Linked DNA regions of Homo sapiens: regions 2 and 3 are each linked to region 1. The links come from fine-mapping of genetic effects on gene expression. A gene starts in region 1. Each other region holds a variant in brackets. All regions are shown on one strand. Distances are from middle to middle.

Region 1 (2,674 bases):
TTCTTTTTTTCTTTTCTTTACTTTCTTTTGAGACAGGGTCTTGCTCTCCATCACTTAGGCTGGAGTGCAGCGGGATGATTGTGGCTCTATGTAGTCTCAATCTTCTGGGCTCAAGCGATCTTCCCACCTCAGCCTCCCGAGTAGCTGGGACCACAGGTGCCTGCCACCATGACTGGCTATTTTCCAATTTTTTGTAGAGACAGGGGTATCCCTATGTTGCCCAGGCTAGTCTTGAACTCCTGAGCTTTCAAGCGATATCGTCCAGCTGAGATGATGACAGGCGTCATCCCAGCTGGACTATAATATGGGTTAATCTTAATAGCAGCTAAATGTTTAACACATTCTGTGGCAAGGACTGTGCACCGTGCTTCTCTCAACAGCCTAGGAGGTGGGTACTATTATCATTCTCCTTTAAATATGTGGAAACTGAAACTTAGAGAAACTTGCCCCACACTATCCAACTCTTAAGGGGCAGAGGCTGACTTGGAACTCAGGCCACAAGGGATGACCTTCCCCCACCTGTAGAGGGCAGAGATCCTGCTGGGAACCCAGGAAGCAGGCAGGGCCAGGAGAAAAGTCAATACTCCCGCTCCAGACGCTATGGGGAAGGGGCTGCTGGCACCTTGGAGTCTCGGGCCATGAGCCGGCCTTAAAAGGGAGGGGTTCCTTTAAGGGAGAGGGACTTTTCCCCACGAGACCAAAAGTAACTCCCAACTGGGAGAGGGGTTCTCTCCGAGTGGCACGCATGAGCGGATCGATGAAGACCCGGCCAACCGGCTGAGGGAGCATCGGGACCCCCTTTGGGGATCGGAGGAGGAGGATTCCGACAGGAGGGAAGCGGCAGCCCTGGGGAACCAGGATTCCTGGTCGTGGGTGGACCCAGTGGAAAAGGACGTGCGAAGCCTGTACAGAATGGAGCAGGCCGGCCAACAGGGCCGGGGGGCGGCGGGTCCCGAGGAGGGACGGGAGGCTGCATGTCCGGAGGAGGTGCGGGAGGCGGCAGAGCAGGGACCTGGGGACGGCTTGAGCGGAGAGGAGGGGGCCAGCGTGGAGCCAGCCGGGCCGGGGGGCGGGGAGATGGCGGTCTCCGAGGGTGGGGCGCCGGCCGGTCTTGCGGTCTGGAGGCGGGGAAAGAGGCGTGGAAACAGGGACGCAGCGAAGGGGAAAGGAAAGCTGCCAGAGGGCAGGAGTGGAAAGGATCCTGGCGAGCACCGGGAGGAGTGGCGGCTGCGGGATCAGCTGCCGAGCAGGCACAGGGACAGGTGCCTGGAGAAGTACTGGGAGAGCGCCCAGGAGCGCTACCGGCTGAGGGTGGGGAAGCGCAGGGCCAAGCGCGCGAAGCAGGTTGTGGGGGACCGGGTCGAGTGGAAGTACCCGCCGGAGAGGAAGGCCGGCTGGCTGTGGCGCCCAGAGACGGTGGAGTCCGAGGAGGAGGAGAAGGAGGCCTGCAGAAGGAAGAGCAGGCCCTTAGAAGTCCAGCAGCAGCAACTCCGGCGGCCCACAGTCAGATTCAGCACCTGCCTCAGATCTCCACGTCTGTCTCAGCTGCCCCTCTCCTGCTGCCTCTCAGGCACCAGTGCCATTAACGAGCTGGCGAAGATGGGCGACCCGGATCTCCTGGAAGTGTTGGCGGAGGAAGGTAGGACCGCGCCAAGAGGCGTCAAGGGAGAGCCAGGCTGGCTGCCTGCACCCCTCCACCCGCGGCGCAGAGGCCCCGGGGGACGTTGGCGGCCCTGCGGCCTGAGTCCTAGGGAGGTTCGCTGCGTGGCGTGCTCAGCGCGAAACCGGGACTGCGGGGCAGAGTCCCCCGCCTGGGGTGAGTGGGGTTGGTTTCGGCGCCCCACAGATTTCTCTGCTGCTCCTGCGCGCCAGGGACCTGCGACCTGTGACCCCTATGGTTCCGGAACACCCTCCTTGCTCCCCTGCAGGCCTGGGAACCGCCGAGTAATTCAGGGCTGCTAGGCTAGCGCTGCAGTGCTTGGGTCTCCGAACCCAGCCAATGGAAACGAAGGCTTTCCCAAAAAAAGCAGCAGTATAGAGTGCAAGACAGCTATCCCACGTGTAAGGAGCTGGTCCTTGAGTCTTATTACCTCACTCTCTCTGCCCGTTACTTATCATGCTTTGAGATGCTTGTTAATTGTAGGAGTAGCAGATCCTAAAATCTATCAGTTTGAGATACTGAGAGCCATAGGCACTTGGAAAAGCTGCTGCTGCTGCTGCTGCTGTTGCTTTTCAACAGCTTTCATTAAGCCCTTTAGTTCCGTTGAGAAATATTTATCCATTGTTTGCCAAAGCCTTTACACCACCTGTATTCCGTGGACCTATTTTAATACATGTATTTTCCTTAAAATGCACATACTATTTTGCTGCTATCTCCAGGACCCCAGTTCCTTCAATGATATTTTATTTTCATGTCTTGTTTAGTGTTGGATTTAAACACAGAAACAGTTTTCCAAAGTGACAAAAGATCTGATCATTACTATTCAGTCTTCAAAGGCACCGGGAAATACCGTGTGTTACTGCATCCTCCTCGTTCCCTTTTTTAAGCAGCTTTATTGAGATATAATCTATATACTGTAAAATTCACCTATTTGACGTGTAAAGTTGGATTTTTTTTAGTGTATTTACAGAGTTTTGTAACTATCATCATAATCTAATTTTAGAACACTTTCAT
Region 2 (2,806 bases), 37 kb before region 1:
TTGAAAGATCATGAATGGTAATCATGTCTAAAGCAAAAATTTGAAAAGTCCTCAGGGCCAAGTGGGCCATATCTGTCTCATGGGGTAAATAGTGGGCTTCAGATATTAGGCAATCGTTAATGTCTCTGCTCTTTCTAATATCCCCTTCCTCATCCTTCTTGCTAAAGTAGTATTTTCCAAAGGGAATTTCATGGGATATCACTTGGTATCCTAAAGAAAAACAAGAGAGAGGGGGTAAGAGGCTCTATAATTTTTTAGGATATGCTGAATCGAATAACAATATGGTAGAAACAACTAGTGGGTACCAGTCTTAATACCTGGCTGATTAAATAATCTGTACAACAAAATCCTGTGATATAAGTATACCTATGTAACAAACCTGCACTGATACCTAGGAGATTAAAAGTTAAAACAAAACAATATAGTGAAAACAGATTCTTCCCTGAGTCTTTAATATACCAACATGACAAGTGTTCTGGGAATTTGCATAAGGCGATAGCTACAGTAGTTCTCAATGAGGTTTGGTACCATCCTCCAAGGATCATAGTATTAGTCTGTTTTCACACTGCTAATAAAGACATACCCAAGGCTGGGTAATTTACTTTTTTATAAAACGTTTTAATTAACTCACAGTTCCACATGGCTGTGGAGGCCTCACAATCATGGTGGAAGGCGAAGGAGGAGTAAAGGCACATCTTACATAGCAGCAGGCAGGAGAGCCTGTGCAGGGGAACTGCCTTTTTTAAAACCATCAGATCTCATGAGACTTATTCACTATCATGAGAACAGCATGGGGAAGAACCCGCCCCCATGATTCAATTACCTCCCACCAGGTTCCTCCCACGACATGTGGGGATTGTGGGAGCTACAATTCAAGATGAGATTTGAGGGGGTAGGGGGGCAGAGCCAAATCATATAAATCACTTATAAATGTATTAAGTCAATTTTGATTATCATGATGATGAGAACCTTTACTTGCATTTAAAGTCCAGAGAACATGGATGCTAAATAACGTGCAATATTTGGGGATAATTGCAGAAAACAAAGAATTGTCTGGCTGTAAGTGCTAGTAGCCTCTTGTTGACATCAGCAAAGACTGCAGCATTTCCAAAAGGAATTTGAACAAAGAGCCTTCAGTTTGGAGTGAAACTTGTGAGACTACTATTTCCTGGAATCCATTTTGGGAAAGGTAGCTTAAGATACTTACTTAAAGACTTAGTTATAGCACTAGTCACCACCCACCACCACCTATGAATTTCTTTTTTTAACTGGGACTTGGTGAAGACCCAGATTATTTCAATCCCTTTAATCAAAGTGAAATGAAGGCAGTGGAAGGGAGAAGCGTAATTGTGGGCAGAAATCCTGCCTCAAATACACTTAGGCGGAAAACCGCTTTATCTCTTCAGAGCATTTGTGGCTACTTCTCTT[C/T]CCTGAAGCATTAAGAAGACTCCATAAGCAAAGCCCTTCCACATCATAGGACAAATTGCTGAAGTGAAAGAGAGCTACCCTCTACTTACTGGGACTGGTGTGAGGACCTTAACCAAGAAAAGAAGATACTGAATTGTAAATGTACCTAGGGGAATAAAATCTGAGTCTTACAAGTGCCTAAGAAATCAGCTTGTGGAACTTCCCAAACTTCCACATCAAGAAGTCTTTTCCTCTCCATTTTCACAGAAACTTCAAATTGTTACCCTTTTGATACTTTTTCCCCACCTTCACTGCTATTTCGATATAATTCATCATCTGATTTTATCATTAAATATTAAAAGGATTTTCAGAGAGTGTAAGGAGGTATAAACAACACATGTGATAAACATACTCTTCTCACCCCTTCCCCAAATAATAGCTATTAAGTTCTGCACCTAATACAAAGCTATTTAGCTGGCTGAACTTGGGAAAATCACTAATACTTTTGGGAATCTTGGTTTTCTTGTCTCTAAAATAGAGTTACTAAAAATGTTCACTTTACAGGGTTGCTGTACACATGAAATGAGATCATGTTGCAAAAGGCTTTTGTCCTGTTGCACAATTAAGTGATCAATTGATGGTAAAGCTGTTATTTTTATTATTAATAGACATGAAACCGGTCTTCTAAGTCTTCGTTCAGAGTTCTTTGGCTACCTGAAATTCTCAAGAAGACCGTGCTGCTTCCAGATGTAGCTGAGAAGGTGGCTTTTCTAAACTTCTCAGGCAGCACTGGTGCAAGCAGACGGCAGCTGCAGCCTACTAGCCTGGTTTCTTATTCACCTTCTCAGGTTCCTTCTTCCACTCCCTTCTCCATCAGTTAAGATTTCCCTCAAGAAGGCACAGTAGCAGCAGAGGCCACCAAGTTAACAACTTTTCTTCTCCAGTGTTCAGCTCTGTGGGATTTACTGTTCCACTTTTTTAATCTGAACTGATCCTCAGGGTAATTCATAAATAGCATTATATTTGTTAGTCTTTATTACCTGGCCCATTTGGCAGTTTGCAGGTAATATTGGCATAACATGACTCTATACAGGAGAGTGAGGGATCCACAGTCAGAATTGACTAGAGCTCTATATAGCAATGAGGCCACTCCTCTCACTTATATTTCACAAGTAGGAAACGTAAGGTCTAGAGGGGGCACTCATTTGCCCAGGCCTCACCATGGTAAGTAAACTGCAGAACTGGGTCTGGATCTGGTTCTCTTGGCTCTTTCAGAGTACAGAGAATACTATTTTGATTGTACCTTAGTACCTCTTCTAGCCATAAGCATGAAACCAGGAAAATTCAGCTATAAGCATCTTAGTAAACTAGCAATGTATTTAGCTTAAATTCACAATGT
Region 3 (2,806 bases), 30 kb before region 1:
ACTTATACTGTGTGTACTCTGAAGTACTTGGCAAAGGTTCCGCATGCTTGCATTAAGAATCGGATTGGGGGTGGCATTATAAAACTAGAGTGATTGCTCAAAATCTATACCTTGCCCTCCTTTAAATTATGTAGCTACCCAACCTTAAATTTAAACATAAAATTTATAGGCTGGGCACAAAGTGGCTCACGGCTGTAATCCCAGCACTTTGGGAGGCCAAGGAGGGTGGATCACTTGAGGTCAGGAGTTCAAAACAAGCCTGGCCAACATGGTGAAACCCCATCCCTACTAAAAATACAAAAAAATTAGCGGGGCGTGGTGGCAGGCAACTATAATGCCAGCTACTCTGGAGGCAGAGGCAGGAGAATCACTTGAACCCAGGAGGCAGAGGTTGCAGTGAGACGAGATCATCCCACTGCACTCCAGCCTGGGTGACAGAGTGAGACTCTGCCTCAAACAAAACAAAACAAAACAAAACAAAACAAAAACCATAAAATTTATAGTATGTAGTTAAAGAAATAAGGCAAAAAGGAGAGAAGACACTACCATTCAGTTGATTTTGTGTACTGTAGATTAAGCAAGCTGTGAAAAAGGCAAGGACGGTGCATAAAGGCCTTCTATCTCCTGCAATCCTCCTCCAGCCCTGCTCTCATTGCCCTCAGCTTCTGTTCAGCTGCCAAGTGCCAGCGTTCCCTCAACTTACGCCAATCCACAACCTCTCCACCCAACAACATACTTCCCCCAGCCAGCCATGTAGACAAGTAATCAGCCAACCCATGCTGGTGTATCTCTTACTTTATAATTGTCACTCCCTACCATAATTGTCTCCTTTTTTTTCTAATCCTAGGAACATTCCCATTTCTTACCTATGTAAGAAATTCTTGGCTGTAAATAATAAGTATATGATTTACCTTATGTAAGGCTAAGAGTCAGGTTTTGGAACTAGGCAAACTGCTCTGCTACTTATTGTGTGACATTAAGTAAATCACTTAACCTCCCTGAGTCTTACTTTCTTTATCTGTAACATGGAGATAATATTACTGTCTTCACTGGGTTTTGTGAGCACATAGTTTCTGCCCTGAAAATATAGTCATTGTTGTTGTTGTCACTTTAAAAAAGAGAAAATTGTTCCAGAAGATAACTCATTTTTTTTTTTAACAGCGGTTTGAAGTTGCATGATCTTGTGGTTAAAAAAAAAAAACAATGATACTACACTGGACTGGAAGATTTCAGATCTAGTCCCTGCCTCACTTCCTCATTGTGTAACAGAGGGCACTAGAGACACATTGCC[G/A]AAGAAGGATTTTCCTTTCTGGTTCTGATGAGCTGGCTCAGAAGCCCTCTGCAGCCCACACAACTTCTCCCATGCCCAGCTGTTTCAGTGAACTGCTTCTCTAGTGCCCAGTTCCTGTACCAAGTACAGCTTCCCCAGAGCCTAGCTCCTGCAGCAGACAGTTATCAGGAGCACCCAGTAGGCAGCAGCTTCCCCTGCCATCCGCTCAACCAGGCAATTTTGTATTGGAATGCCTCAGGCAAGACAACTTCTGTGAACAACTTTTTCCAGTCTCTAGAGTGTAGATTTTCTGTAAGTTTCTAGAGGGCAGATTTCCAGCAGTTTCCACTAGTGAGGTGCCACAGCAATTTCTCTGCCATCCAATGAACCATAGCAGAGCCTTCTCCCAAAAGATCTGGGTCTCAGCCTGGGAGCTGGGAGTGGATCTTCCTTGGCTGCTGTATCTCAGCCTATCTCAGTCTGGGAGGTACTGGCTGCTCTTTATATTTGCTACTCCCGTATTCCTTAGAATTCTCTTTACTTCTTAAGAACCAAACCCTTATTGTGCCAATCCCTTTTTATAATTAATAATTCTTTAAATTTTTCCCATTCAAATTACCATGTAGTTTTTGTCTTCTGATTGGACATTGACTGATACACTCAGAAATACTATTATTTCCAGAATGCTATTGTTAAGAATGAGATCTTTTTTTTTCCTTTTTTTTTTTTTTTTTGACACAGATTTTCGCTCTTATTGCCCAGGCTGGAGTGCAATGGTGTGATCTTCGCTCACTGCAAGCAATTCTTCTGCCTCAGCCTCCCAAGTACTTGTGATTGCAGGCATGCACCACCACGCCCAGCTAATTTTGTATTTTTAGTACAGATGGGGTTTCACTATGTTCAGGCTGGTCTTGAATTCCTGACCTCAGGTGATCCACCCACCTCGGCCTGCCAAAGTGCTGGGATTACAGGCATGAGCCACCGCGCCCGGCCTAGGAATAAGATCTTGTAATTTCACTGCTAAGCCTCTCTAAGGAGCATTGTTTTGGAGGTGAGACGTCAGAAGAAAGTAACAAGGCTTTTGGAATGGCAGAACCACATGTGAAAGACACAAAAACCTTCACTTAGAATACAAAACAGATATGCATAGAGCCCAAAGTCATCTAAATAATCAAGAGGGACATTCATAAGTTTTATTTGGTTTTGTACCACTTAGAGTTAGCTAGACTGCAAAGTTAAGGTCACAGTCCTCTAGACTGCCAAGTCTGCCCAAGACTTTTGAAACAGACAAGTTTGGGAGGCTCCCAGAATCATCCCCAGAATCATTCTTGGGCTCAATAATTTGTTAGAAAGACTCACAGAACTCACTGAAAGTTATTATACTCAAGGTCACTTTTATTAAAAGGAAAATATACAAATTAGAACCAGACAAAGGAAGACACACAAGGCAGAGTCTTGGAAGGATCCAAACAAACACAGGGCATCTAGTCATCCTTTCTCCAAGGAGTCAGGGATGGACAGGGTTACCTCCTTCTG

What was found. PIP is the estimated chance that this variant, and not a neighbour inherited with it, causes the effect.
Region 2: its variant is fine-mapped to the expression of ANO5 in whole blood (TOPMed, PIP above 0.99).
Region 3: its variant is fine-mapped to the expression of ANO5 in whole blood (TOPMed, PIP above 0.99).

Annotation. Positions count from the first base shown.
Region 1 is chr11:22,191,894-22,194,567 of GRCh38, forward strand. It overlaps ANO5 (anoctamin 5), which reads left to right and starts at 1,192. Exons shown (of 22, transcript NM_213599.3): 1 at 1,192-1,639. The coding sequence starts at 1,600. RefSeq lists enhancers at 350-439, 670-729, 760-829, 1,480-1,569, 1,820-2,009 and a silencer at 1,010-1,059.
Region 2 is chr11:22,154,790-22,157,595 of GRCh38, forward strand. All of the region lies in intron 1 of LOC124902645 (a long non-coding RNA gene), which reads right to left. Among named protein-coding and RNA genes, the nearest start is that of ANO5, 37 kb to the right of the region's middle. The variant C/T (reference allele first, on the strand shown) is at 1,429.
Region 3 is chr11:22,162,253-22,165,058 of GRCh38, forward strand. All of the region lies in intron 1 of LOC124902645 (a long non-coding RNA gene), which reads right to left. Among named protein-coding and RNA genes, the nearest start is that of ANO5, 29 kb to the right of the region's middle. The variant G/A (reference allele first, on the strand shown) is at 1,292.